Homo sapiens: one gene and its partners. The protein of the gene in region 1 purifies or fractionates together with the protein of each later gene. This does not show direct contact. Each region holds a gene or a part of one and is shown on either strand. Other genes may lie near its edges.

Evidence for each region.
Region 2: the proteins of BRF1 (region 1) and FLII purify together in Homo sapiens (affinity purification with mass spectrometry, with the first as the bait; one large-scale study listed by BioGRID). This does not show direct contact.
Region 3: the proteins of BRF1 (region 1) and POTEI purify together in Homo sapiens (affinity purification with mass spectrometry, with the first as the bait; one large-scale study listed by BioGRID). This does not show direct contact.
Region 4: the proteins of BRF1 (region 1) and LRRFIP1 purify together in Homo sapiens (affinity purification with mass spectrometry, with the first as the bait; one large-scale study listed by BioGRID). This does not show direct contact.
Region 5: the proteins of BRF1 (region 1) and RAI14 purify together in Homo sapiens (affinity purification with mass spectrometry, with the first as the bait; one large-scale study listed by BioGRID). This does not show direct contact.
Region 6: the proteins of BRF1 (region 1) and USP28 purify together in Homo sapiens (affinity purification with mass spectrometry, with the first as the bait; one large-scale study listed by BioGRID). This does not show direct contact.
Region 7: the proteins of BRF1 (region 1) and ITPRID2 purify together in Homo sapiens (affinity purification with mass spectrometry, with the first as the bait; one large-scale study listed by BioGRID). This does not show direct contact.

Annotation. Positions count from the first base shown.
Region 1 is NC_000014.9:105,213,591-105,217,888, forward strand, and holds part of BRF1 (transcription factor IIIB 90 kDa subunit), read right to left. Parts: intron 4,211-4,298; coding exon 3,954-4,210; intron 3,689-3,953; coding exon of another isoform or gene 3,562-3,688; exon of another isoform or gene 1-3,561.
Region 2 is NC_000017.11:18,251,828-18,256,125, forward strand, and holds part of FLII (protein flightless-1 homolog), read right to left. Parts: intron 3,437-4,298; coding exon 3,356-3,436; intron 3,028-3,355; coding exon 2,942-3,027; intron 2,856-2,941; coding exon 2,694-2,855; intron 2,356-2,693; coding exon 2,252-2,355; intron 1,893-2,251; coding exon 1,717-1,892; intron 1,632-1,716; coding exon 1,474-1,631; intron 730-1,473; coding exon 645-729; intron 320-644; coding exon 172-319; intron 1-171. UniProt on the Homo sapiens protein: Is a regulator of actin polymerization, required for proper myofibril organization and regulation of the length of sarcomeric thin filaments. It also plays a role in the assembly of cardiomyocyte cell adhesion complexes.
Region 3 is NC_000002.12:130,502,374-130,506,671, forward strand, and holds part of POTEI (POTE ankyrin domain family member I), read right to left. Parts: intron 1,522-4,298; coding exon 1,407-1,521; coding exon of another isoform or gene 1,377-1,406; intron 1,247-1,376; coding exon 1,073-1,246; intron 1-1,072.
Region 4 is NC_000002.12:237,629,989-237,634,286, forward strand, and holds part of LRRFIP1 (leucine-rich repeat flightless-interacting protein 1), read left to right. Parts: intron 1-4,298.
Region 5 is NC_000005.10:34,829,893-34,833,583, forward strand, and holds the end of RAI14 (ankycorbin), read left to right. Parts: intron 1-795; coding exon 796-873; 3' UTR 874-2,720; downstream 2,721-3,691. UniProt on the Homo sapiens protein: Plays a role in actin regulation at the ectoplasmic specialization, a type of cell junction specific to testis. Important for establishment of sperm polarity and normal spermatid adhesion.
Region 6 is NC_000011.10:113,812,917-113,817,214, forward strand, and holds part of USP28 (ubiquitin carboxyl-terminal hydrolase 28), read right to left. Parts: intron 2,467-4,298; coding exon 2,258-2,466; intron 1,040-2,257; coding exon 969-1,039; coding exon of another isoform or gene 960-968; exon of another isoform or gene 839-959; intron 1-838. UniProt on the Homo sapiens protein: Deubiquitinase involved in DNA damage response checkpoint and MYC proto-oncogene stability. Involved in DNA damage induced apoptosis by specifically deubiquitinating proteins of the DNA damage pathway such as CLSPN.
Region 7 is NC_000002.12:181,894,467-181,898,764, reverse strand, and holds part of ITPRID2 (protein ITPRID2), read right to left. Parts: exon of another isoform or gene 4,067-4,298; intron 2,736-4,066; coding exon 2,686-2,735; intron 2,214-2,685; exon of another isoform or gene 2,142-2,213; intron 1,858-2,141; coding exon 1,801-1,857; intron 1-1,800.

The DNA of each region.
Region 1 (4,298 bases):
TGCTGTTAGGAGGGTGCGCTTCCTGCAGGGACACACCCTCCCTCCCCCACCTGGCACTGAGGACAGGCTGAAATTCAAGCCACAAGGTCCTGCTGCACTGACCCAAGGTCCTGACAGACAAGTCCAGCTTTTCCAGAACCAGGAAGCAGCTGTGCCAGGCCTCACCCTGGGGGGCCAGAAAGCTCCCTACTCCTGCAGAACCCGGCTGGAGAGAGGGTGCGTAGTGTTCATGAGTGCAGAACCGCAAGGGCTCCTGGGGTCTGCGGGCTAGCTGGGGGCCTGTCTCAAGGGCTTCCCCCTCTTCCACGCAGTATCCTGTGTGAACCTGAGGCAGCCAGGCCACACGGGAGGGCCTGAGAGCGCCTGGAGAACAAGCTCCCACCTGGCATCACCTCGGCCATGGCTTTGGCCTGTACGGGGGTCCCCAGCCAGGGGCCTGAGGATGTGGGGCGCTGCGGCCCATTGTTCACGCAAACCCACTGTTGGGCTCAGGCTGCTCCCTCTCGCAGCCGCGCCAGCACCTGCTGACCCCGCTTGGCTGAAGCTCGGCCCCAGCCCAGCCTGGGGGGATCCTGGGGCCTGTAAGCAGGCAAGAGGGCAGCTCATCTGGTGGGCCCCCACTTTGTCCCCCTTCCAGATATGGGCGCTGGGGCCCACAGCCCACACTGGCCCCTCTGCCTGTCCCCAGAGTGGGACGCTCAGGCATGAGGACAGACTGATCTGCATGGGCTAGAGGAAGACCCCGAGGGTCAAAGCAGCCCGAGTGACCACAGAGTGAGGAGGAGACAAGCTCGGAGGGAGCGGCTGCCCACATCCCTGTGTGGCTCAGCTGCCCACACCCATGCATGGCCCACCCCTGCGTGGCTCAGCTGCCCACACCCCTGCGTGGCTCAGCTGCCCACACCCCTGCATGGCTCAGCTGCCCACACCCCTGCGTGGCTCAGCTGCCCACACCCCTGAGTGGCCCAGCTCAGGTTCTGCAGTTGTCTGTCATCAGGGGAAGCATGCATCATGACGCAGGACCAGGGGCAGGTGGCCAGAGGGAGATGGGCTAGGCAGCCACCGGCAGCCAAAGAGAAAGGGGGTGCAGCTCAGGCTGGTTCCCCCACAGCAAGGAGGGACTGCCATGCCTGGGCCACCCAAGGCAGCACAGCTGCTGCTGAGGAACGCTGTGGTCGCTGGGCTGAGGCAGTGCCTCCTCAGCTGAACCCCTCCTTGATGGTCCCTCCCCACCACCCCTCCCCACGTCGGAGCCTCAGCCTCTTTCCAAGTGGTCCAAATCCCTTTTTCCTCACCCGAGTGTGGGTGAAAAGCTGCCCCCATGGGCTGCAAGGGCAACCGGGACAAGCCCTTCTGTCCCCAGGTAGACCCCCTCTCCCCTGCCCCGCTGGAACTGCCTGAGCTGCCCAGGCCTGAGTGGGGGTGGGAGTGTGGGGGGTCCCCAGCCCTGAGGTCTTCATGCTTCCGTCTTAGAACACTAAATATTCCCGAATCAGATCATGGCCATGTTGGGGGGAAGACTGATGGGTTTCTAAAGCAGGAAGCAGTGCACGAACACGCAGATGTGTGTGCACACAGACTCACAGATGCACACACACTGCACACAGTTGAGAGACTTAAGACACACACACACGCCCCACGCACACAGAGAAACACAGTGTATACAGACACATGCATGCACACACGTGTACATAGAGACAAAGACCTGCACACCACAATCTGTAGACATACAGGTACACATGTTGCATGCACACACACTGCATGCACAGAGAGACACATAGGCGTGCACACCTGCATTTGCACACAAAAACTTACACACATGCACACACACTATGTGCAGTCACAGATACAGGCACACACTGTGTGCAGACACCAGAACACATGCACACACACACGTACTGAGTGCACCAACGCACACACGTACTGTGTGCATACGCACTGCATGCACAGACACAGGCACACACACATGCACACATACACTGCAGGCACACAGACACAGGCGCACACACACTGCATACACAGAAACAGGCACACACACACTGCATACACAGACACAGGCACACACACACTGCATACACAGGCACACACACACATGCACACAAATACTGCATGCACACAGGCACACACACACATGCACACACACACACTGCATACACAGACACAGGCACATACACATGCACACACACTGCACACACACACATGCACACACACTGCATACACAGGCACACACACATGCACACACACTGCATACACAGACACAGGCACACACACACATGCACACACACGCTGCAGGCATACAGACACAGGCACACACACACTGCATACGCAGACAGGCACACACACACTGCATACACAGACACAGGCACACACACACATGCACACACACTGCATACACAGGCGCACACACACATGCACACACACGCTGCAGGCATACAGACACAGGCACACACACTGCGTACACAGACACAGGCACACACACACACATGCACACAAATACTGCATGCGCACAGACACAGGCACACACTGCATGCACACAGATACAGGCATACACGCACTGCATGTACATGTATACACACACAGAGAGACACACATGCACACCCGGGCCCTGTCTGGGCCAGCTGGTCAGATGTGACAGAGGGGGCTGTGAACCCTGTCACCAGGCACCAGAATCACCCAACTGGGACAGGACCCCCACCTCCAGCGCTGACAGAGGCTGGCTAGGCAGGCAGAGGACACGGAGACTAAAGCCTCAGATCGGACCTGGGAGTGCTCAGGCACAGGGGAACCGAGCCACAGACCTGCCCTGACTTCACCTCTGCCCCACTGACCTCCTACGCATGCCAGGAGCTGTGCTAGGAATGCACCCCCAGAGGACCAGTGCATGGCTGATGTGGAGGAGACAGCCCATGCGGCCCTCCTGAGGGGCTGAGACGCCGGCTGAGAAGCACCAGCCTGCCAGGAGGTCAGGCTCCCTCACAGAGTAGCACCTGGGCACCCCAGGGGAGGGGCAGGGGCAGGGCCACAGCACAGCCAACTCTCGCGGGGTGCAGTGGCCAGCCTAGCAGCTCAAAAGGCCAAGGAGAAACCACCGCAAATACCGCAAACAACAGGAGGCCCTGACGGGGCTGCCGAGAGTCAGCACTGCCCCACAGGCGGAAGCAGCTGGAGACAACGCAAGAGATCCCAAGAAGCAGTAGGACCAGCAGACACACCCAGCCCGGAGACTCGGTGGGGTGGAGTGAAGGTCGGAACCACCAAAGGGTGGACCCAGAAGCTAAGCCGCCAACCCCATCTCCACTGCCAGAGGGACACATGGACCAGCCACAGGCCCCCAAGACGCAGCAGGTGAGCCCAGCTGCCCATGGCCTCGTCAGGAGAGCCTGCAGCCGCCACCCAGCGGCAAGCTGTGCACAGAGGCCGACCCACTCCAAGGCGGCCCTGCATGGAGCTGCAGAGCCTCGTGACCCTGTGCGCTGAGGCCAGCACATCCCGCCTTTGACGTCCCTCAGCCACGTTCTCCACCCACATCCTCCTTCCTCAGCAGTGTGCTGCTCTCACCCATCACCTCAGCAGAGACGGCAATGCAGCCAGGGTGCGCAGAGCAGGCACAGGGCGGCAGGGCTGGGGACTCTTCTTCCCGAACCCAGGCTGGAGAAGGCACCGACCCCACGGATTGTCCCAGCCCCTCCTTGGGACAAAACAGAGCCTAGGCTGCAGGACCCCCCTGACAGCTGGACCCGCCCGTCCGCTCACAGCCTGCCAGGCCAAGGAGAGTTGAGACACTGTCAAGGTGCCGGAGAAGGCCCACCAGTCCCCAGCATGCAGGTGGCAAATGCCACTCCAGGCACTTCTGTGGCCCCGGCTGGCCCCCGGCAGCTCCAGGACCCGAAGCCATGGGCCTCTGCCCGCCCTGGGCTGCTGCCCTAACCCAGCCACTCAGGACAGGATGGTACCTTTTCCCCACACTGGTCACAGGGTCAGCCCCACTTCTGCTGGCCGGCGTCCTCCTTCGTGACAGCTTCCTGGCACTGGCGCTATGCTCGGGCTGTGCATCCTCCCTGTGCGGACTGCCCCCGCCGGCGCTGCTGAGGCCCCGGAGCACGCTATAATTGATCTTGCTGGAGATCTTCTTCTGCTCCAGCATCTTCTCGATGGCCTCCCTGGCGGTACTGGCCTGAATTGGCTCCCGTCGCTTGCAAGACTTCTTGGGCTTGAGGGAAACAAGCAAGAATGCCTCCCGTGAGTCACGCCCACTGCACTCCACCATCAGGGGCTCCACGTGAGGCCAGGAGTGCAGG
Region 2 (4,298 bases), on another chromosome or scaffold:
GGCAAACAGCTGAGCCCTCACTGGGCCTGCTGCCCCCTTGGGCATGCGACCAACCAGGGGCCAACTCCACCCACCAGGGTCCAGAAAGCTGTATGCCACCCAATTTACAGATGTGTCATTTGAGGCCTGGAGAGGAGCCCCCGTTCCCAGGCCAGACCTTTCCCCACTCACCAGCTGCAGCTGCAGCCACGGTAGCAGGAGAGGCACCCGCTAGCCGCAGCTGGTTCTGCAGCGAGAAGTCGATGTTGTACCACTCAGCGGCACGGTCTGCGGGCTTGGGCGGCATGACCAGGTTGGGGTTCTCCCGCACATCCAGGACCTGCCCCATAGGGTGAGCAGAGCCGGCACTGAGCCTGGGTCCTACCTCCCAGACACACCAATCCAGTTTCTTGCTCTTGTCTGCAGCCGCCAGGGCTGAGAGGTCAGGGAACTGGGTTCTCCTCCCACCCACCTCTGGGGCTGGCTGGGGGCTTAAATGAGACTGTGGAATGTACTCTGGATGCAGGGAGGTGGGGCCCACCTTCTCCCCACGGGCACCCTGGCACTGGCCACCTCCCTCAGGAGGCCTCTGCTGGGTCCCCCTTGCTCCAGGGCACACCCCTTGCTTGTCTCTCTTGAGCCCTCTCAAACCCAGCATGCCTGACCTCGATCTCCGTCAGGAAATGGATGGCTTCTGGGAGGGTCACCAGGTGGTTCTTGTTCAGGACAAGTTTCCTCAGCTTTGGGCACCTGTGAAGACAGGGCCAGCCAGGGCCTCAGGCAGGTGACAGACAAGGGGAAGTGGGCAAGAAAACCCCTAGTCCTGGGGAGGGGAGGCAGGTAGGGTCAGAGGAACTGGCGGGGGTCTCCATTCTCTGCCTGAAGGACTTCTCAGAGCCAAGAGACCATGTTACGGGCACTGTGATCTCCAGAAGGGGAGAGAAGCAACACTGCGTTCCCACGTCATGTGGCCTTGTCCCTAACAGTGCCCCCCGAAGGGTGCTCTCAGGGGCTCAAGTTGGGAATGGCTGGCATGGGACTGTGGTCTTCATCCACAAAGGTGAGTTAACTGGGCCGGGCGTGGTGGCTCACACCTGTAATCCCAGCACTTTGGGAGGCTGATCATTTGAGGACAGGCATTCAAGACCAGCCTGGCCAACATGGTGAGACCCCATCTCTACTAAAAATACAAAAAGAGCCGGGCGTGGTAGCGCACGCCTATAATCCCAGCTACTCAGGAGGCTGAGGCAGGAGATTCGCTTGAACCTGGGAGACAGAGGCTGCAGTCAGCCGAGATTGCACCACTACATTCCAGCCCAGGCGACAGAGCGAGACTCTGTCTCAAAAACAAAAAAGAAAAGAAAAGAAAAGAAAAGGTGAATTAACCCATCTTCATTTTGTCTGACTTGCACAGACCACAAGGTGGGCTCTGACTACGATCCCGGGGTTCTCTGTGCTGCAAGTGCCTCTGCTAGCCCCAGCCCTGCCCAGCACCTGCAGAGACTTTCAGGGACCAGCTCCAGGTTGTTGTTGGCAGCCATGAACTCTTCCAGGTTGGTGAGCTTGCCAATGCCTGAGGGCAGCCCGTCAAAGTCCAGCTTGTTGGAATTCAGGTACAGCTTCTTCAGCTTGCTCAGCTTGCAAATGGCTGACTGGAGGGGGAACGGGCAGGGGTGGGAGGTCAGGGCCAGGCTCACGGCCTTCCTCCCATCCCCCTACTGAGGGCCTCAGACGCACGGGCAGTGAGGTGAGCTGATTTCGGGACAGGTTCAGAGTTTCCACGTGCACCCACTGGTCTATGCACAGGGACAGCTCCGTGATCTGGTTGCTGCTGAGGTTGAGGCGGCGCAGGCTGGGGAGGGTGTACAGACACTCGGGCACCCGTGTCAGGTCATTGCAGGACAGATCCACGTCTGGGGTGCAGGGTGGGGTGCATCAGCTGGGGCCCATACACCAGGTGCCAGGGCAGCCAGCCCTAGTGTGAACCCCAGCTCTGCCACCTCTGAGCTGTGTGGCTTAGGCAAGTGACAACTGCTGTGCGCCCAAGTTTCTCCATTTGGACAAACTCCCTCACATGGGGGTTGCGGGGGAGTTTTCTAGGCATAAAGTCAGTGTTAAGGCATCATCATAATCGCAAAAGTCACTGTAACATAACTCCAGCCTTTTCCCTCTGGGTATTGGTCCGAAGAGCAGGGTTCAACCCCTTCCACCCAAGGAAGCAAGAGGGCCCAGAGGGGGCCCGAGCTCAGAGGGGCTCCTGGGGCTGCCTGACCTGCGAGGTTGCTCAGACCCTCCAGGCTGGTGGGCAGGTTGCTCTGGGTGCGCTGGGTGCTCCGCAGGTGCAGGGTCTGCAGGGCCGTCATCGCTGGGAGCTGCCTGCCAGGGTGACGTGAGTGGTCAGGGCCAGGGCCCACCTAGGGAGTGTTAAGGGTGGGGCTTGGCAGGGCAGGACCAAAAGCACAGGGCCCAGAGGGTAGGTGTGAGGTCACATCTGGTTGAAGGGACAAGCCCAAGGGTGGTTGCGGGGTGTGTAAGCGGGAAGACAGGACTGAGAGGTGGACATGATACTTAGGAGGTTGTACACTGAGGGGTGCTGCCTGCACGGAGGGATGGCTGGGCCTAAGGGAGAAGGGTTAGGGCCCTGGGAAGTGAAGGGGCCCGGCCAGACTCCTCAGGGTGGCTTCTGCAGGAGTGCGGTCCGAGGGGGCGCCCACCGGAGCTGTGCATGCAGCAGGGGGTTTCCATTGAGCACGAGCGTCTGCAGGTGCACCAGGCGGCGCATCTGCGGGGGCAGGCTCTCCAGGCGGTTCTCGCTGAGGTCCAGGTATAGTAGGTCAGTGAGGTTGATGAAGAGCTGGTTGGGGATGGTGTCGATGCTACGGGTGGGGAGCAGGAGCCACCTGAGTCAGCACCAGCCACCCCACAGGGCCCACCTGCCCCCTGCCCCCCACTGGCCTGGCACCTGTTGTGGCTGAGGTTCAGCACCAGCATGTTCTTGGCGTTCTCCAGCTCCCGCGGGCACTCTGTCAGCTGGTTGTGGCTCAAGTCCTGGGTAGAAGGGGCAAGACCCAGGTCAGGGGAGTCTCCTCCCCACCAGGCGTCTGCCAAGCTTGGGGATCAGGCAGGGCACTGAGTTGGGTGTGGGGGTAGATGAGGGGGCTTCAGGGCCAAAGGGAGACAGCCAGGGACTTGGGAGGAAGAGTGCCTGTGTTAGGGATCTGACTCCAAAAGTGACCTCAGGCAAGGTATTATCCACTCCAAGACTCAGTTTTCCCATCTGCAAAATGGGATAACAATGGCCCCAGGGACTTTTATAGTGAGTGGGGATTGAATGGTCCGGCTAGCACAGGGGCCAGGTGAGTGGGTAGCCACTGACCAGGACTGAGAGATCATCTAGCTTGAAGATGTCATCGGGGACTCCGGAATTCTTCAGACTGTTGGCTCGGGCCACGATGGCCTGGGAATAAACCATAAGAGTCTATAATTCCTGGCTTCCACTCTCAGGAAGGAACAGAGTCTAGAGAGGGACACCTCCTCAGGCAGCTCACCAGAGGCCAGGCCTGAGGACTCTCTCACCTCTGGCCTTTGATCAAATAGCTCCCTCTCCTGGAGCGCTCTTCCTAGCCTCCCAGTGAGCTCCTATTCATGCCTCAAAGCCCAGCTCAAATGTGCCCCGGAGCCCCAGCACAGGGCCCTCAGGGAACCTTTTCTGTTCAAACCATTTCTCTTCTTCTTAATTCCAGAAGGTGAGATAGGGGTAAGGTCTGAGTCAGGGTTTTCAGAACAGAGGGAGAGAAGTGGACCACAGAGAAATCAGAATCTGGATGGAGAGGAAGTCTGCTTTCTCTCCCTAACTTAAGACTGACACCTCCTCATACCTTACAGACATGCAGAAAGCTTGAGCATGAGGGAACAGGGCCAGAGAATGGTGTCGTGACTCCAAGTGACAACGGGAGTCACCGGAGCTGCCCCGCCACTTCTCCAGTCTGAATGCCTGTGCGGCACCCTGCTGCTGCTTCACGGGGTCACTGCTGCCCCTCCCAACCACTGCACTTGCAGAGGAGGCCCAGAAGGTAGAAGCGATTTGTACAAAGTCACATCACCAGGAAGTGGCAAAGCCCAGCTTTGAACTCAGAGAGTCCAAGTCAGAAGCTGTGCCCTAAACATCTCCAGGGCTCTGACTTCAGATGGGATGGCCCTCGTTGAGGCCTACAGGGTCTGGCCAAGGGCCTGATGTTCTGGGACGTTCAAGTCTTGGGTAGAAGGTACACGGTGCTCCCGGCCAAACCCCACTCAACACCAGCTCTACCACTGCCTGG
Region 3 (4,298 bases), on another chromosome or scaffold:
AGACAATTACTTCAGTCTCATTTCTCACCCATATGACCAGTTCCCTTTCTCATTTGAAGATTTGGCCAAAAAGAGTAAGGAGTAGGAGAGAGACCCATTTGCTGAAAACACCACATGATTTTCCCCGGTAAGAGAAGAACAGGGTCTAGTCAACTCAAAATCCAACTTGATCTTGTTACTTATTTATCTTCCACCTTCCCATCCAGACACTCTAGATTTGAAAGCAGAGCTGAGACTCTAATTGGCCATTTCTACCAGAATAGGATACTAAGTCAGTTAATTACTTGATATTCCCTCTGCTCAAGGGTTTCCCCTTACATTACCACCTATTCACTGCCAATCTGGTTCCTCAGAGGCCTCCTAAAATTGATCTCTATTCAGTTTACAACCCACTAACTCCCTCTCCCAAACTGAAAACTGTCATTCTCTAAAATTGAAGAGAACCTTGTCTCAACATACAAAGGGAACAAATCAATCAACAACGACAACACACACACACACACAACCTCTTCATGGTCTTTTCCCTCTATTACCTAATTTCCAAATTGGCCTTGATATTTCTGATTGCTCTCTTTTCCGCTTTCCACTTCTGCCTCATGAGCAATCAGAAATATCTTAAGCCTTGCCACTGACAGGCGCATCACCTTCGTATCTATTACTGTTTCTTAGGAACTTGCCAAAGGGGCAGGATCTCTATTCATTGAAACATATTTAAGTTTTCTTGGAGTTTTCATGTAAAACCTATTTCAGGGCAAATTTTGCCATTTTACATTCATTAGGGGAAAAAAATCCTAGGAGGGAAAAATTGAAAAATAGTAAGTATTACCTTCTACAAATTCAGTGCTTTCAAAAAAATTATTTACCACAAGCGCATTAAAAAAAAAACTGTACCCTCTAATGCTTCTTTGAAAGTAACAATATTTAAAATGAAGTCTTAGATAATTAGGTCATTTCAAAATATTTTCATTCAGGTTATGCTTGAGCTTCCAAATATGGAAGACTGGCCCTTACACAGGTCAATGTTAAAATGAATGCATTTCAGTATTTGAAGATAAAATTGGTAGATCTATACCTTGTTTTTTGATTCGATATCAGCACCGTATAAGAGCAGTGCTTTGGCCATTAATTTATCTTCATTGTAGATAGCGTAGTGTAGAGTGGTATTTCCATACTCATCTGGAATGTTTGGATCAGTGCCATGTTCCAGCAACATTAACGCACATTCATCTTCCTGGCATTGTACGGCCTGTCAGTATTAGACCAAAAACAAATTACAAATCCTAGGAATTCAAAATAACATTCCACAGCTTTCACCACCTAAGTTATATTTAAAGGAGAAAACTCATTTTTATGCTATGTATTGAAATCAAACCCACCTCATGCTGATATAGTTGGCTACTGCATACCTTTGTCAGAGCTGTCCTCTTTTTGTTGTCAAGGACATTAAGTTGACATCGTCTGTCCAGCAGGAGTTTTACTACTCCTGAATTCCCATTGGCAGAGGCCAGATGTAGAGCAGTCCTATGAGAGTGACAAGACTTTTTAGGAAATTGTAGTGCACTAGCTACAGCCATAGCAATGATTCATGTAATTGCAAACACTGAATAGCCTGCTATTACTCTGCCTTCAAAACAAACATTTAACTTTCCCATGAAAAAAGCACACTATTTATTATCTCTCTTTACTCGCTGTATTAATGAAAGAGCATCCTATATGAATACAAAGAGCATAGCCCTTGGATGACATTCAACTTGAGCTGGAATCCTACTTGAAGCTCTGTCACTTCCTGGCTGTTGCTTAGCCTTTTGGGGTCTCAGTTTCCTCATCAATAAAATAGGAATGAAAATAGTAGCTTTCTTACGGGAAACCACTGTAATGCTTAAATGAGACTCTGCACAAAAGATATAGAATAGTTCCTAACACAAATAACAGCTCAATAATTGTTAGATATTTTAATTTTTACTAATACCACTAAAGACAACATTTGAATTGAGATGATACAATTATACCTGCACTTTCAGGTGTGTTTTAAATATTACAGCTAACATTGTATTTTAGTGATTCTGAGATGATCATTGTCTCCATGTTGTCTCCACTGAAATACCACTTACAATTCATGATTTACTATAATTTGCGGCATTTAAATAATTCTCTTATTGAGGCATAAAATAATGGGGCATCATACAATCCCTGGTGTCTTACATTAAGTAGAATATGTTACAACAGGTCTGGGGCGGTTCCAGTCAGATGACCAGCATTTAGATAAATTTTAGTTCCTAAAAGAACTATGGAATAAGAGAGCAGAGGTGAAAACAAAAACAAATTTCTAAAATAAACCAATTCTTACTTTGGTTTTCAATAAACTTTAAGTCAAAGAAAACTTGGAATTCAAATGAATAGCATGGGCTCATTTTTGTCAACACTTAGATTTATACAATGTATGTACATCAGATATTTCCAATCATTCATATTAGGATTTAAGACTGTTATAAATTTTCTTGTTTTAAAATGGATTTATGAAACTATTTGTGGAGCTTTTTTCAACTTTTACATTCAGGGATACATGTGCTGGATGTGCAGGTTTGTTACATAGGTAAATGTGCACCAAGGGTGTTGGTTGTACAGATTATTTCATTACCCAGGTGTTAAGCCCAGTACCTGTTCATTCTATTTCCTGCTTCTTTCCCTCTTCCCACCCTCCACCCTCTGATAGGCCCCAGTGTGTGTTCCTTCCCTCTAGGTATCTGTGTGTTCTCATCATTTAGCTCCCACCTGTAATTGAGAACGTGCTGTATTTGGTTTTCTCTTCCTATGTTAGTTTGCTAAGGATAATGGCTTTCAACACCATCCATGTCCCTGCAAAGGACATGCTCTCGTTCCTTCTTTTATGGCTGCATATTATTCCATGCTGTTTATGTACCACATTTTAGTTCTTAAAACAACTAAAACAGTCTTTTCCCCAAGACATAAATTTTCAAAAGGGCAGTTAAAGGTTATCTATTACTATTTTCTACCTCCAGAAATGCTTTTGTTTGAAAGGAGGGAGGAAAAGCTTCAATTGAGATTAAGTCCTAATGCCCCAATTTTAAATCTCTCAGCTTGCTCAAGCCCAGCAGGAAAACATGTAGTTTTCAAAGACGGAAGGATCCTGAGAGATAGTAGAATATGCCTGCCACATAATAGGTGTCTGGCTTATGTCTGATGACTAAATGGATAGGAAAAATGGATGAACACAGCTTGGGAGTTCAATATTTTTAAAGAAAACTCCTATAGAGTAGCGCAATACATTTGCAATAGCAATAATCATTTATATTTGCTATTTTAATTTTCATAAATATATAACTCAACTAAAATGATTAATTCATACTTTTTACATGTTAATCTATATATAATGAAAAGATAATTATGGAATAAAATGTATATATAATAAAATCTACAGGAACAGGTAAACACGACCCCTCTTCTTCTGAAGAGGGTAAAAGTTCACAGAAAATAGCCAACCACAGAAATAAAAATAAATAATAGAATGTGAGGAATTATTTGCATCTATGCAAGAAGCATATTCCTTCTCTTCCCAAGGATTATTGCATTAGTAATGAACCTTAACTACAACTTCAGATGTTCATTGCAGAAATCACAGATAAGAGAAAGGGAAAAACTTCACTTACAAATCCCCAGAAACAAGTTTGATTATATTTTCTACAGATTTGCAGCTAACACGAGCAGATTCTGTTCGTGTATATGTGTAACAAACTGATTTTTTTCTCACTTGATATAGCAAAGTACATCTTTGCACGTCGACATATCTCTGTATCTACTGACACCCTCAATAGTTACATATTATTCCATCCTATGGATGCACTGAAATTTGTTCATAAAATCTTTATATGGGTTCTTCTAAATACACTGCTATTTTAAGCAATACTAAGAAAAACACATCTATTTCGTAAAGATATTTCAGTATAATGGAATTGATAAGTAAAAAGCATACACATTTTTAAAATGTAGTTCTTACCACTAAAGTGTCTGTTTGAAAAGCTGCAGCAACTTAAACTTTAAACAACTACATAAGTACCACTGTTCTTCATCCTCACAAACTTTGTGGATGGAAAACAGTATTTCATTCCTTTTTTTTTTTTTTTCTTTTTTTTTTGAGATGGAGTCTCACTCTATCACCCAGGCTGGAATGTAGTGGCGCGATCTCGGCTCACTGCAACCTCCACCTCCCTGGTTCAAGCAATTCTCTTGCTTCAGCCTCCTGAGTAGCTGGGATTACAGGTGCGTGCCACCATGCCCAG
Region 4 (4,298 bases), on another chromosome or scaffold:
TCGTCTCTAAAATGGAGAAGAAGAAACCTCCCCTGGCTGTCAGAATTAAAGAAAGTGGGTAGCAATGTAAAGTATGTAACTAGGCGGTGGGTAAATATGAGAGCTTCTTACACGCCCCTCCCGGTAAAACCCAGCCGTAGGTGCAGCTGTTACTAGTGCTGAGTAGCACAGATTGATAGGGTTGGAGGGAGCAGGTGTGACATCTTATGTTTTAGTACAAATTAACTTCTATTTCTCAACTGTGAAAATGAAAATCACTATTCAAATGGCAAATATCTACTCCTTGAATTCATCAGGGTTCTTATAGAAATCAACAAAATCGTCTTGGGTTCAGTACTTTCTTATTCACTCATTGACTCAACAGATACAAGCCATGGTATCCAAATTCCTGTCCTGGGGAGACTGGAGAGTCAGGGAGGAACCCGGCGAGGACCTGCCTGCCCTCCAGGAGTTGGGTCAGAAAGGGGTTGACACCTGTAGATCAATAATGCTAACCGAAGACAGGAAGGGATCTGATATAAAAAGGGCGTAGACAGTGTTCTGAAGGTTTGGACATGAGAGAGAATCACAGCCGGCCAGTGGTCTCAGAAGTGGCTTCCTGGAGGAAGTGGCATTTTGAGTTCTTGAAGGCTGTATGTACCAGTCAAGATGCTTTGGCTGCTGGGACAGAAACCCTGACTGGACTGACATTGACAAGGGGAAGTATATTGGCTGGAGCACAGCAAGCCCGGAGGCAGGGCAGGATTCCCCGCCAGCCTCACCAGTGGCTCCGGCCTCTTTTTCCCACAGCACCTGCGCAGCTGGTTGGGCTGGGCCATCCTCTGTGGGTGGCCTCATCCTCAGGCTGACTTGCTTCATGGAGGCCAGCTGGCCTTGGCTTTCCCGGGCTGCCACTGTGGAGCCCACACACCGTCTCTTCTGGTGGCTCTCTCCAGAGAGCTAGCAGTATCTCCCTGGTAAACTTTCATGAGTCTGTCTGGCCACTCCTGCACCAAGCTCTTTGACAAGGACCATGGACTTAGGGGCTCAGTGCCTGTGGCAAAGGGGGGTGGGTCTACCCTGTGACCTGTCAGACTCATCCTGGGACTGGGGAGAGCCGGCCTCCCTGAAACACTTGGGAAGGTGGGGGCCTGAATGGAAACTGGGGAGGCTTCAAGGAAGTGGGAGGGAGTGGGCTGCCACTTGGGCCTGGCACCCAAGAACATGCCTTCTGGAGAGTAAGTGGAAAATTCTGGGCTGAGGTCATTGGGAAGCCTGAGTCACCTGGCAGGGACGTGGGTTCCAGTTCGCTGGAGCGAGGGGAAGAGCTAGGCTGCCCTGTGCAGGCAGGGCTTTGCACTCTTCTGGGTAGAAGCAGGACTCGTGGTGGGGGCAGCCTTTGGAGGGTGCATTTCTGCTTCTGCAGCCGGTGTCCTGCTTCCATGTGATGGTTTAAACTCTAGGCAAGCGTGTATAGTAAAGGGAGTTATTTGCAAATGCTGTATTATCGCAAGTCAATTATTTCTCACTCTCTTGTTGCAGTGGAATTCAGGCGGGATGTTATCAGGAGAAAGGTTTAGTACGCACTTGCAGAAGCTCATTAGCACCAAAGGCATGAGCTGCGCCTCCCACTTCTGGGGAGGGGTGTTTCCAACGCAGATAGATTTTCCTCTCCTACCGCATTTCACATTCTACTGGTGCATTTTGGTAGCATCCCAAACTTCTCATTCAGCACTCTGCAGCTGAGTAAAGCGATACTGGTCTCACCATGCAATTCAAAGTATTGCTCTCAAATGAAGAATGTTTTTCCCAACAGGAACAGTCATTTGCGCAGGCTGCATTAGGAACTCACCGTGGGGCCTTGAGACAGTGCGGTGAGCTTATTATCCCCTGGTGGTGCCATAGGTACCCCTTCCTCACCCAGCAGGACGGAGGCCCTCCCCCCATAACTGTTTCTGCAGCCTCCTCTCCAAGCTGGCCCCTCTGTGGCCTGCGGCCTCGGGCCCTGATCCATGGCAGGGGCACTGCTGCCCCACCCGGCTGCTTCACCGGCCCCAAGTTGACTCGTGGGCCTGCGGGTGCTGTTGGTTCAGGCCTCACAGCCACCGCCTTTCACTTGAGCCACGGCCACACAGGAGTCCAGTTGCGGAGAAGGGGTCGCACTGCCCCCAAGGAGTCCAGTTGTGGAGAAGGGGTCACACTGCCCCCAAGGAGTCCAGTTGTGGAGAAGGGGTCACACAGCCCCCAAGGACTCCAGTTGTGGAGAAGGGGTTGCATTGCCCCCAAGGCAGCCTGCAGCCATCAAGTAACCATTTTGTGAGGTCACAAAATGTCCCCCAGGCTTGTTTCAAGATGCAACCAATTCTGTGGTACGTTTCCTGCTCCGGAGCTCTCTGCGGGCCAGGCTGAGGCCAACTCCTGCCGAGACCACCTCCCTCCCCAGCCCTTCCCTGACTGGCCTGCCCCCCTCATGCCCCTGCTGGGACAGGGCTCACATCCAGTCCTGCCATGGGCTCTGCTTCTGGAACCCAACATAAAGCCATGCCCCTTGTTTCAGGTAGTTCGTAAATATCGGGTCTTTTCATCCTAAGTCCCCCTTTCATTCATCTTTTCTCCCTGTCCTTCCCAAATAGCCCTCCTATATCAACCTGTGCGGAGGGAGCCTGTCTCTCTTCTCCTCAAGGCTGTTGGAGAACCAAGCTGGGGATGGGGTGCACGTGTTCTTTTCCAGAACAGCCCAGAAGTGGGGTTCAGTGTGGAAACTTCGCTCTACCTCTCTCCAGCACTAACCTGACCTGGCTCCTCTGGGGTGGAGAGTCCAGGACTGAGCCCAGCTGCAAAGATGCAAATCTGGGTCCCCAATGCAGTCCCTTGCCCTCTGGTGAGGTGACCCTGGGGCCAGAATTCACCTGCACGCAACCAAGATGTCAGACTTGTCCCTAGGCCTATTTCACTTGATTTGAAAGTGAATTTCATGACTTTTTTCTCTATGAATTTGCTTTTCTGAGGCTGGCCAGCAGATTGCACACCAACTGAGTGCTGCTGGACACTGGTTTGCCATTGGGGCTGGGCCCTGCCCCTTTGTTCCACAGGAGTTGGGAGAGGTGAGGGGCGTTCAGTGCCCGGCAGGACACAGGACTGTCCAGCCTGAACAACATCCTGCCTCCAGTTGGAACCCAGCCGCAGTGGAGTCACTGAGGGCTGTTCTGCAGCTGATTCTCCTAAGCCAAACACCCATCTTGGCAGATCGTCTACAAGGTTTTAGGAATGTGACAAGACTGGTGTTCCAGACGGATTTTTACCAACAGTCTGAGCTGTTGGAGGGCGTGAACAATGTGCCTGTGACCTTGGGCTGTTTGTGCGATTCCCAAAAGATGCTTCTGGGTTTCTGAGTCCACAGAAAACTCAGCTGTGGACAGGCCTGCTGGTCCCCAACGGCCCTGGGCCCCACCCCACAGCTATTTCTGTCAGAGGGCCAGCTGTCTCCCTTCTTCCTTTTCTGGGTGACTCTTGAGCCACTCGTTGGCCTGGTACTCAGGGTTGGGATGTGTGTGTGGAGAACATGACCTGGCTTCTAGCCCTGCCTGTCCCCCGTGAGCCCTGCCCGTCCCCAGTGAGTGTGAGACGGGAAAGGAGAGAGGGGCGAATGGAGGTTGCTTCTAAGACCCAAGGTGTGCCAGGTACTCTGGAAGCTTTACTCCCATAGTTTGTTTAAATCCTGTGAAAAGAGTTCCGAGTCTCTCTGTTTGACAGAGAGAAAACAGACTCAGAGACACCATGGGACATGGCTGAGGCCACCTATTAATTAGGGGCTGCCAGTTCATGGCCCAGGCTGCTTCCTGGATCAGCCCCTCAGCTCCCTCCAAGACCCCATTCAGGCTATGTCCTGCAGGCAAGCCACCTTCTTCCTATCCCTGGCACATGTCGTCCCCCACTGACCTGTGAACCACCAGGGGTGACATTTCAGGAGAGAGAGTCCCATATCTGTCTCTGCCTTACTGTATCTCTCATCTTCTTTTTCCATCCTTTCATCTTTAAAAAATTGATTTTTATTTCATCAGAGTAATATATGTTTTTACCCATATTCTCAGGCCGTTCCCCACACAGTAGGCTGGGCAGTCCTTTTAAAATATGTCAGATCATGCCACTTCTCTGATAAAAACTTTCCAAGGGTGTCTTGTATCACTCCGTAAAACCCAAGTCCTTAAACAAGCTACAAGACCCTCAATGATCTGGTAATGATCTCCTTGTTTATAAATAACATACATATGTATTACACATTAGTTTATCAATTGCAGATGCTGTCAGCTGGCTCCTGC
Region 5 (3,691 bases), on another chromosome or scaffold:
GAATTAGAGGAGAATCCTTTTCACTGGAAAGCCTGAATATGCCTTTTGCATTGCTTTGGATTCTGTGTCAGGAGCCTTGTGCCCTGTTTACCAGGAACAGCCCCATCTTTTAAAGCAGGGCCTCACTCTGTCATGCAGGCTGGAGTGTAATGGCATAATCTCGCCTCACTGCAGCCTCGACCCACGGGCTCAAGTGATCCTCCCACCTTAGCCTCCCAAGTAGGTGGGATTACAGGTACCCACCACCGTACCTGGCAAATTTTTGTATTTTTGTAGAGATGGGGCTTTGCCATGTTGCCCAGGCTGGTCTCAAACTCCTGAGCTCAAGCAATCCACCCGCTTCGGCCTCCCAAAGTGCTGAGATTACACGCATGAGCCACCATGCCCCACCCTCCCATCATTTATTGAGGAATGAGGGATGATGTGGTCCTCCACTGGGAAGACGGGGGCTTTATTTTCCAGCAATGCTGATCTTCTTAGTTACCAGTGCTGCCTTGGCTCTATGATGCTTGGTGTTCTGGCTGCTGGACTCACATTTGCAACTGAGACCCCAGATAGCTTTTGCTGAGGGTTTTGGTAGACACTGCCACCTCATCTTCCAGCTGGATAAAGGCAGGGCCCTTTCTTTGACTCAGTTCCTCATAGAAATTTGGGAAATGATAGGGCTGACATTCCTGTGAAAGATGTGGGAATTAGCCCAGGTCTTCATTGCAGTCAGCCATCTCATTCCCCAGAGAAGAAAGTGCCATGGCTTAATTTAGGTTCTAATGAGTATCTTGTGTTTGAATATCCTAGGGCCAGATGGATGAAGATGTCCAGAAAGTACTGAAGCAAATCCTTACCATGTGTAAAAACCAGTCTCAAAAGAAGTAAAGTGGATTCCTTGGCAGGACACTGCCCCTTGTCATCTGTCTTTGTGTTAGATCCAGAGTTGTCGGCAGCCGCTGCCATTGTTCTCATTCGTGGTATGCACTGTGGCCTAGCGTAGCTTCTTCCCTTTCCAAAGGTTTCTGAGGACTTCTCCCAGGAGAAGACTGCCCGCCTCAGAACTGCTTAGAGACTTCAAACCAGCAGAGGTGAAAGTCCCTGTCATCCCTTCAGATTCCAGAGCTGGGATCAGCCATGCCCAGAGGTCTGGTCCTGATGCTGGCAGGGGGGCCCCCTCCTCCATCCCTGACTGGCTGAGTGGCTTTATCACCACCGAGTGATGTGCTGAGGCCTCCTGCAGTGAATGCTCCTTCCATTCCTGTACTCGGGCAGTGCCATTCAGCACAGGAGAGCTCTTTTTGCCTTTGGCTTTCAATTCCAAAACATGATTTAATTTCTAACTAAATTAGTATGGCACTAGTTATGAAGTATCTGCTTAAAACCCTTCATCATGATATCCTGTGGATTTAAAAACTCTAATTCCATGTTTTCTTCCCATCTGCCTTATATATCTCATCACCCTGCTTATCAATATTCAGTTTGATGAGCACTATTAACTAAAATATGAAACTTAAAAACAAAAGCAAGTTGTCCTTAAAAGTTCTTTTTTTAAGTAAATTGTTGACATACTGCAAATTTTCTATGCAAACTTGCCTCCTGCTGTTATCTGTGAAGCTCAGGAAATCCAAACATTTGTGTTTCAACAAGGGACAGTAAACTGTGTGTTTACAGCCAAAAGAAATGCCTCATAGTTCTTAACCTCAACTTTTGTAGAAGTATTTTTTTCTCTGTAATATTTTTATTGGCTCATAAAGATGTTTTCATATCTGAACTCCTAAATAAGTGAAATTACAGTAGATTATATTAACAAAATACTTTTTAGGTAGCCATGCTTGAGACTTTTTAAAAATATAACTTTTTCCTTAAAGTTTTCAGCTATAGCAAAAGGTAGTTATGTATGCCAGACCTAATATGAGCTGCCACCAACACCCCTAGAACTTTCAGCCATGGTGTCTTCAGAATTGTAGCGCATTTCTGAATCTAGCAAATCCTCCTTTTACCCGTTGAATGTTTTGAATGCCCTGACTCTACCAGCGCCCATAAATGATCTCTAGAAGGACTGTTAGTACCAATCTGTTTTTCAACTTTGAAGCTAAAAACCCTGATATGGTAATATTATGGTGCATAGCAGAGGTCTCGGAAAAAAAATATTTCTGTTCACTTTACTTTCAGGTTAAAAATGTTTCTAACACGCTTGCAACTTCCCTTATGGCATTAATCTTGTTGAGGGAGAGAGACAGAATCCTGGACTCTCCAAAGTATTTAACTGAAAGTAGGGCCTGCTCTGACAGGGCCCATGTCCCACAAGGCTGCTTGGCCTCAGTGGGTGCTTGGCTGTGCTGGATGATATGTTGATCTGTATTGGATAAGGACCAATGACAGCAAAGCAAAAATGGCTTTAAAGCTTGGTGTTACTTTTCTTAAGTTGTTTAATTATAGTTAAGCAATTTCAAAAATGCTCCAAAGAAATGTGAAAGGACCTTTTGTCACAGCACTTCAGAAAATACACAACAGCCCCTTCTGCCCCCGCACAGAAATGCTGCAGAGTATATAAAACTTGAGACATTTTTGTAGGATGCCTGACGAGGTGTAGCCTTTTATCTTGTTTCCGGATGCATATTTATTACGAGTACTCTGGTTAAATATTGAAAAGTTATATGCTGTAGTTTTTAGTATTTTGTCTTTGTAATTTACAGAAGTTATTGGAGAAAATAAACTTGTTTCATTTTGCATTTCTGGTGTTGATTTTTGGTGTATTCAGAAGCATATCTGCGTGGCTTCTGAAGATCAGTTCAATAGCATTTCAGTGTAATAGGTTTTCTAGTCTGTGCTATGCTCAGCTGGTATGAGTTGTCCGCACTGTCTCACACAAAGTCTCACATCATTTCCTTTTCCCAGCTCTTGGATTCGCCCTGAGCTCTGCCCTGAGTATCAGCCGCTTTGGGGCAGTTGAATCACAGTTGCCTTTAATTCACAATTGCCTCTCATTTAATCTGCAGTCTGTTTAACTGTTTGGAAGCCTCCGCTGGATTTTTTTTCCCTCTTGCTTCTTGCTTTTTTTGAAAAAGTAATACATACATATGTAAAAAAAAAATCCAGATACATTTTCCTGCCCCATTACAAAGACAATTCAATTAATTCCTGACAAAACTCTTGTCAGGTGAATTCTGGCAAGGTTAAAATCATAATTAAAATTGTTGCAGGTTATAATCATAATCAAAATTACATGAAATAGGTACAGCTACTTAAGAAGTTAGCATTGTTTATCATACTCCAATGTAACAAGGCCATTTCCCTTCACTTACAACATGATTCCACCTCTACTTCAGTTTCATTGTGCCTTCCTACTATACCCTGAAACTTTATTTCAAAGAAAGCATGTGTGTGATACTCAACTGAACCTTTTATTTCAACTGTGGCCAACCAGACAACTCAGAAGGTGACTTCATGGGGACACTCAGCTGGAGAGGAAACTGAGATAAACCCAAACCAGTCATCTCTGATGGACAGAAACGCCTCATAAGGCAAAATTGGGATATGAAAAGAAACTCTCCTGCCTCCACAATTAGATAGCAGCTGAGATTGTAGGACAAATGAAAGGAACCACAAATAAATCTTTCTCTTACTCCCCAATCCTTAGTGCATCTACCCAGAAGCAACATCTAGTAAGTTTCTTCGGTGACCTGAGACATTCTCTGTCTAT
Region 6 (4,298 bases), on another chromosome or scaffold:
AACAAAATTTAAGTTAACATATTTAATTCAGCCACATGCTTCTTAGAGTTAAGTGACCACTTATCTATCTGGAGTGAAGACCCTTTTAATGACATACTTGTTTGTTACAACATTTGAAAAGCACATTTGTGTATTTTCAATATAGAGAAAATAGAGCAATGCTTAAATGCTAACTAAATACTAGTAAAAGAGATGAAAGTCAGTCACAGAATCAAATTAAATTTACACTTACTTTGACCTATTTTAATTACTGGTGAAGATTTTTGAATTAACACAAAAGAAAAAATGGGGAAGCCTGCGTTTTACATGGTGCATTCCTGTTAAGCAATGGGACTGTGCCTCAATGCCATTCTAGAAACAGGGCTCCCCTCCTCCAAGCCATTCTGCCCATTCCAGTCATTCATACAGAAGCCACTGAAAGTCCATGCCCCTAACCAGAATAGGTTCAGAGACACTCCTGGAGGCTCTTTACCCCTCCATTCCCAGAATTTATTCTAACAAACACTTCTGTGGATAGTTAAGAATTTCTGTCCTAACTCTCTTTTGGAATTTATTATTACAGAAATAAAGCTTGAACGCATGTTGTTAAATTAAAGATCTTGAAGAATCATGGAACTTTGGGAAAGAAAGGATAACTGTTCTCTAGTTCAGTTTTTCCCACTGCACTACTTAAAGTACCATTTTGTAAGTAATTTTTATTAGTATCTGACAGCAAACCTTTCTACAATATGAAAAAATTCCATGTGGCAGAATTCAAACAAGTATGTGTTAGGTCCTGTTTTTGGTAAAAGGTATATTGCTTTCTTTAGCCTAAAATAAAGAAACAGAACAACATCAATTTATATCTTAAGTTTATTCTTTTATCTTAGGGGGATTCCCATTGGGTTTAAAAGAAAACTATCAAATTTGATTTTTGTATCTACCATTAGCACATGCCTTGACTACTTTCCCATCAATTTTCATTCTACCTGACGAAGGAGAGGATCGCAGTACATCTGTTCAATAGTCTGAGTAGTACTTGCAATACAAGTCTTTAAATCTGTTTGGAAAAAGAAAAACAAAAGCTTCACTAAAATGATCTCATTCTATGTCACACAGGCTACTTTAACTAAGCAAAGAATATTGCTAGGGTCCTAATGATTTCAGCTTCCCTCTATGAACCACGAAGCAATATACAGTTTTAAAGCAGCTAGTACTTTAGGTTATGAAAGCTTTTAGTTCAATATAATTACATTAAGGTTTTAAAACATTATTTTTTATAATTGCCAAAATTTCTTAAAGAGTAAGCTGTTTAGGAAAAGATCTTAATGGGTCACTTGGCTGTAAAATGTATGCCTCAGACAGGATCTGAAATGAGAAAGCAGAACAAAGGGTAAGGCTAAATTTCTCTGAATAGGAATCTGGGAAGAATCTGTATTTTCCATCATCTTTTTGTTCCCTAGACAAAAGGAGACAGGAAGGGGGGTAAGGTTAGTCTGAGCAATATGGGCAATGAGGTCAAAGGGCTTTTTAAGAATACAATGCTGAATAATCCAATTTTACATTGTGCATACTGCTCAAATACCTCATTAACCTTCAGTAAAGCATGCTTCCTATAGAAAAGACTGAAGAGTAGAAGTCCAGAAAAGCTAAATGCTAAATCTGGGTCAACTTAAGCTGGAGTTCAGATAATCTACCACAGAAACAGAAATCAGTTGATGCAGAAAAATCTCAGCAAAGGTGATCATTTCCCAGAAATTTTGAGGGGGAGATCTTTCCATATCTGTATAATGGGGGTGTGTGAGCCAAGTTTACAGGGCACTAAAAGTGCAAAAGAAGTCACAATTACCATGTCAAAATTCAAAAGCATGGGCCAGACGTAGTGGCTCACACCTATAATCCCAGCACTTTGGGAGGCCAAGGCAGGCAGATCAGTTTTGGTCAGGAGTTTAAGACCAGCCTGACCAACATGGTGAAACCCCATCTCTACTAAAAAAAAAAAAAAAATCAGCCAGGTGTGGTGGTACATGCCTATAATCCCAGCTACTTGGGAGGCTGAGCCATGAAAATCGCCTGAACCCGGAAGGCGGAGGTTTCAGTGAGCTGAGATTGCACCACTGCACTCCAGCCTGGGTGATAGAGTGAGACTCCATCTCGGCGGGGGGGAAATTCTGTAGCATGTACAGTAATGTCAGGAAGTGTACCGAGGTGCTTAACCTCCAAATAGTCAAAAAACAGAAAAAGCAAAGAGTAACTGACAAATTTTAAAAGAGCCAACCTTGTATATCTTGTTCAATCTCACTCCTCCATCTCTGAAGACAGGTCTTAACAAAATTTATCTCCTCATCTGTGACTGTTCGTGGAGCTGGCTGTGAAGGCATTTCCATGGAAGACCGAGAAGATGTCAGTGGTTTAGACTTGGGTAAAGAATCTTCAGGAGAAGAAAAGGTACTTTCAACATCCTGAGAAGAGCTTTCTGTACTTGTACTGAGGAAGACAAAAATCATGCTCATATGATAATTTCCAAAAGATACCTTGGCCTAAATTATGTACTTTGGAAAGCAAGATGCTATATGAAAAAGTACAGGTATTCAGTGAGCATTAACTCTATAAAGGTACAGAGCCAACCTTTTTCTCTATCATCTCACGTACCACAACTGGCCTGTGAGGTAGATACTTTTCTATCCCTATTTTACCAACTGTGAGCCTAAGGTTTAAATAAATTAAGCAACATGCCCAAGTTCACCAAGCTGGAAGGTAATGAAAATGAATCCAAAGCCAGATCGGCCAGTCTTTAGCTCATGTTCTCTGATCACTGATTATTCCTTCCCATGAGGATGGGAAGAGAAGGAAAATGGAAAAGAGAAGACTAGGCCTGGAAGAATCAAGGAATCAACTACAGAGTTTACAAGATGAAGCCAACTAAAGTGACACTATCCTTCCTGGAACAAAATACACAGAAGGAAGAAAAAGGAAGCATCAGCTGAACATACAACTCACAGGAATACACACTAGGTGACACCTTGGAGAGTTCTGAGAGAAGGGCTTCAAGTCAAACAATCCTAGCTCTACTACTTTAGCTAAATACCCAAGGAAAAAAGTATTAATATCTCATCTACAAAATATAAATCTTAAGTTCTTTACGTCTTTTCTGTAAACTAACAGAGAATAAAGCATATCAAGTAAATGTTAATTTCTCTATTGTCAGAGTAAAACTGCAGGTCAACAAACCAGCAGGAATATAAAATAAGCTTCTAATTGTAGTTAGGTTTCTCTTTTACACCAAAGCTGAAGAATATAAACTTCCTTTACTTTGACTTAAAAAAAAACTCTCACTCCTGCCGGGTACGGTGGCTCACGCCTGTAATCCCAGCACTTTGGGAGGCTAAGGAGGGCAAATTACCAGGTCAAGAGATCGAGACCACCCTGGCCAACATGGTGAAACCCCATCTCTACTAAAAATACAAAACTCAGCTGGGCATGGTGGCACGCCTGTAGTCCCAGCTACTTGGGAGGCTGAGGCAGGAGAATCGCTTGAACCCAGAAGGCGGAGGTTGCAGTGAGCTGAGATCATGCCACTGTACTCCAGCCTGGCGACAGAGTGAGACTCCATCTCAAAAAAACAAACAAACAAACAAACAAAAAAACCTCACTCCCTCCTCCTCACTCTCTCACATGCACAAAATAATGGAGGAAATCTCTTTTCCCTAAGGTCCATACTTATGGAAAAATAAGCCCAACAAGGGAACAGATATCTCAATTTCAGAGGAGATTACACACATACACCTCCCTGTAATTTTTAAATCTAATACCAAGCACTATTATTTTATTTGATTAAATAGCCTGCCGAACCACTTTTTAAAAATTAAAACTTTACATTTCATAATATACATAAAAAGATTCTATTTTTACAAAAATTAAAAAATTTAAGTAGAATATAAAAAGTGAAAGAGCAGCCCCACTCCTATCCCCAGACTCATGTCACTCCTTAGAGATAATCATTCTTGACATTTGGTATGTTCTATCCAAATAAGCATTTCTATGCATACATGGATGAATAAATATTAATACGTGGGGCGGTGGCGGGGGATGTGTTGGGGAGAATAGTTAAGATTTTTTGACAAAAAAGTCTAACTTTTTATTGAGTATTAGTGTTTTTATTAGCCAGGTAACACATATCAAATGTCCTAGCTACCTTTCATGGCTCCTCTAGGCAATAAAGATTGTTGCACATGACTGGATGGAATAAAATCAGAGGGCTCCTGTGACTTTGCCTCCCTCTGCCTTTACTAGAGAAGCCCCTCTAAGCTGTCCTCTTA
Region 7 (4,298 bases), on another chromosome or scaffold:
TAAACACTTATCTTGGTCCATTAAATCTGCATTATTAAAAGTGATATACAGATAGATAAGAACAGGGCCAGGAGCTTTTGAAGGGTGTTTTTGTGTTGTGGCAACATGAAACTAACTACTCTCACTTGAGTGCTTAAAATAAAAAAACGTATAGGGAACCAGTTAAATTTCTTTAACAGGTTAGAAATAAGTAATGAGGAAGATATGTACCATATATGTGGTACTAATTATTAAATTTAAAAGCTATTAATGAATAATATCTTAAGAGGAAAACATGATTTAACATTAAGTGTGGCAATAGTATATGTCAGTTTCTAATGTGAATTTTTTTTAAGGTTATAACTGATTTTTCACACATATAACATGAAAATTTCTACTTATTTCAATATAAACTTTCTTTTAAAAATTGCCTTTCAACTTTATGATAGAACTTTAGCTTAAAGTTCTAAACAGGTAAGTGTTAATGTTTAAAGTTAAATTTATAGACAAATACAAAGAATAAAATTAATTATAAACACATCTATTTCAGCACACATGAATTGCTTTTCATTTCTGATCTACAAAGTTATGACAATTTTGTGTTTCTTTGTACATCCACCAGAAAGGTGCCTAACTCACAGCACTCAGTAATTATTTACTTAATGAATGGAAATAGCCTTGAAATAATTTTCAGTAAAACAACATAATAGATTTACTCTTTCATGAGACTCCTTTTTAGGTTCTGGTTTCCAATAAAATCATTCAATATTATCAAACTACCAAGGCAAATATCAAAAGTGCAAAGTGCATTTTAATAACGGATTGACAACATGTTCAATTGTACTGAGTGGGAATCAGTAAGTTTAAGCTCTTTATAGAGCTTGAAAATATATGAACAGAAATAATAAGAACTAATATATTTGCATATTCCAGAGTTTTAAATGTTAGAAGGTTCTAAATAAGTAATTTACTTTACAGATGCATTTGAAACAGGAAAAAATCAAGAATATTAAATTCAATGTATAAATTCACTATTCACCAACTTGTAAGCTTTAAAGACTTTTTAAAAATCCTTGTTTTTTTTAAAAAAGTACACATTAATAACTGAGCTATACAGCTATGAATAATCTATGCAATTTGATCAATGAGCTATAAAATAGCTTTTAAAACACCAGTAAAATAATTAAAAATTCTTATTTTTTGTACAAGAAAGCTTTATTATAAATCTACTGGAAAACATTACATAACTTGTAAAAACTTTTAAATAGCACAACACACTTTTTAAAATCTAATGCTTTCTGGAATAAACACCAGCATGATTTCTAATAAAATTCTATTAGCTCTGCTATTTTGTCTTTCCCCTTTAATTTTCTAAAAATCAGGAAAATGGGGAAAAGACAGGAGACACTTAAATGCAAAGAGAAAGACAAGCTGCAGCTGTAAGTATGACATAAGTCTATTTTGCGCTAAAAATAAGCTTCAATTTTGTTTTCCCATGTATAAATATTTAAGTGTCCTTCCTTTTTCAGGACAATTCTTCCCTCAGTTATATTACCACGGTTTGTTACAAACTGTTCCTTTAAGCATTTAGTCCAAGAAAGACAGATGGACACTTCACATAGTTTTTCAGAGTCATCCCTACATGTATCCTACAGACTATGACTAGATTATTAACAAAGAAAGGTAATGTAAAATATGCCTGAGCCATTTTCAAGACCTTTAAATTTAGCTTGAGGATCATAAACCTGAAACCATTCAGCTTTCTCATTTTTTTTAAATTTGAAAACTACACAAAAATACAGTTCTTCCAAACAAACATACCTTCAGCTCCCAATGACAAATCATCTTCAAAACTTCCTCCATTTCTCACAAGCACACCTGAAAGACACATTTGAAAACTCATCCTGGTGTTCTGTTCCTCTCCACCCTCATATAAAATCACTGTTTTAGTTAAATTCACCCAGCAAAATATCTTATACAGTAAAATCTTTCAGACTTGAATGTACTCAGACATTATTCTGATTATATAACTTCAAGAAGCAGGTATAAGCTTTTACTTTAACGTAAAGAAACCACTTTTCCAGCAACATAAAGTTCTCAGAAGCCAACCTATAGGCTGTTTTAAACTTATATTTTTGAAGATGTTCAATCAGACTACATACCAAGAGTTTCATGGAAAACCAGATCCTGGAGCAAATATTCTTCTTATCCATCTCATATTAAGTCAGGAGCTGGATTTTCCTGACACTGTAAATGTTTTTTTATATGCCTTGCCACTGCCTGCACATGCTTGTTGTACTTTGAACTTTAGAATTCTGTCTTGAACAGGTGGTAAAATTTTAGGTGTGGCAATTTCAGTAAATGTAAGCAAAGAAATGCTGCACGAAAGTTGACTAAACTTTTGTTCACTCAATAAGTATTTTCCTTATATTTGCATATTATATATTCATATTTAATTAGTCTTTATAATACCTAACTGGACAATAAAGATATAAGTTTCACGTTGTGAAAAGGCTAGGCAATTTGCTTAAACTCCCTACTGTTTTACGGTTTATAACAAAGTTTCTCCATTTTGCTTCTAGCTCAGAATAGCATATACTATAAACATGAATATCACTTTTATAAGTCATATATACACTTTTACCCAGAGGACAAAGAAGTAGAACTGTCATAAAGAACAGATTTAGAAAGGCAACCTTCTCTTACCCTTGAGTGTACTACTGCTTTGTTCATCCAGTGAGGCTCCCAAAGGTGTACTGAAACCATATAAACGTATAAGCCTTAGTCTTGTGAAAGGCTATTTGGAAAGTTGTCATTACACAGCCTTACTTAAAGAGTTACAGCTCAATAAGCTTCTAATCACAGTTAAACTCTCCTCCAAAAACACACAAGGAATGCAAGTAGATTACATAAGTAATATTCACTAACTAAGCAAATACCTGCCATCAGGTCAGTTCAGCAGGAATGATTTAATCATGTCTGATGTGCTAACAATTAGGGGCAAAAATGGCAATGACAAATGATTTGAATTGGCATTTTTCTTTGCAAAAAAGAGAGAATGACTGACAATAAGCATTAAGAAAATGTCTGTTCTTCTCAACCCCTTCCATCAAAAAAGAAAACAGAATTAGAAGAAAACAAATCTTCAGTCATAGGTAACTTAACCTTAATAAAATTAAAAAGTGAAGAGTAGTTGGAAATGAGGCCCAATAGTTTCCTTAAACCTCATCTGTTAATCTATCACTAGCATTTCAGAGCATCACCTAATGCCTCCCCCTTGCCCCAACAACTATCTTTTTATGTAAATGTAGAAGCTTGAGATTCGCTTTGTTTTTAAGCTAAAAAATATATATATTCTTCATTTAACTTTGAAAATTACTAAAAAGTTGACTTGAGAATCAACATTAAGATTAGCCATTGCTAAAATTTTTTCATTCTTGTAGTTCAAATACAGATGAGAGAAATATCTTTTTTTCAAATACAAAAATAAACACTTTTAATTCTCTGAAACCAAGTTATAGTAAGAAACACATTGTTTTATATTGGAGGGTCTGTTTTGTGATGCACACCTTTCTTCAGTAACAATTTATAGCTGTTAAAAATTCACGAGACATGGGATCAATCATGAAAATATCAGTTTCAAGGAAATGTTACTGAAATGCCAATTAAAGGTTAAAACTTTCTACAAGTATACTAACAATGGCAGCTCTTTAAAACTTAGTGCTTTTGAAACGTAAAAGAATCACAAGCAATTACCATAAATATATTAATAAAAGCTTTAATCTATTTTTTGCATATATTTTAATAAAATTCTAATGTATGTCTTTAAAAAGTCATCCTTCCCTGATGGCTACTTTCTTGGATGTAAACATTGTATTACTCTGTCCACAGATGTCTCTACTGGTCTATGCACTAACAGAAAATGGTAGATAAGCAGAGTAACAGGAATCCTCCTTCGAAAACAAATATCTTACTTTTATAGTTGCTCCCTTCCAAATTCTATCAAAATCTCTACCATTTCTTAAATGTTAATTCAAGCAGTTTTTACTTAGTCCCCCCACAAATGGTTATCAAAATAAAGACTCCCTTTAAGGAAAGAAAACACGGTATCTTTATTCAGGATATGGACGGCACTAAGAAACAAAGACTATTTGAGAACTTATCAAGTGGGTAAAATGCTGTCTTCAGGTCATTTGTACATAATAAACAAAATACATAGATGCCCAACTCTGAGAAGGAACTTGAGTTGTTATTTAAAACAAAAATACAGATGCAACATATCCTAAGTCGAATCTGTGATAATATAGCCAAGATTAAAA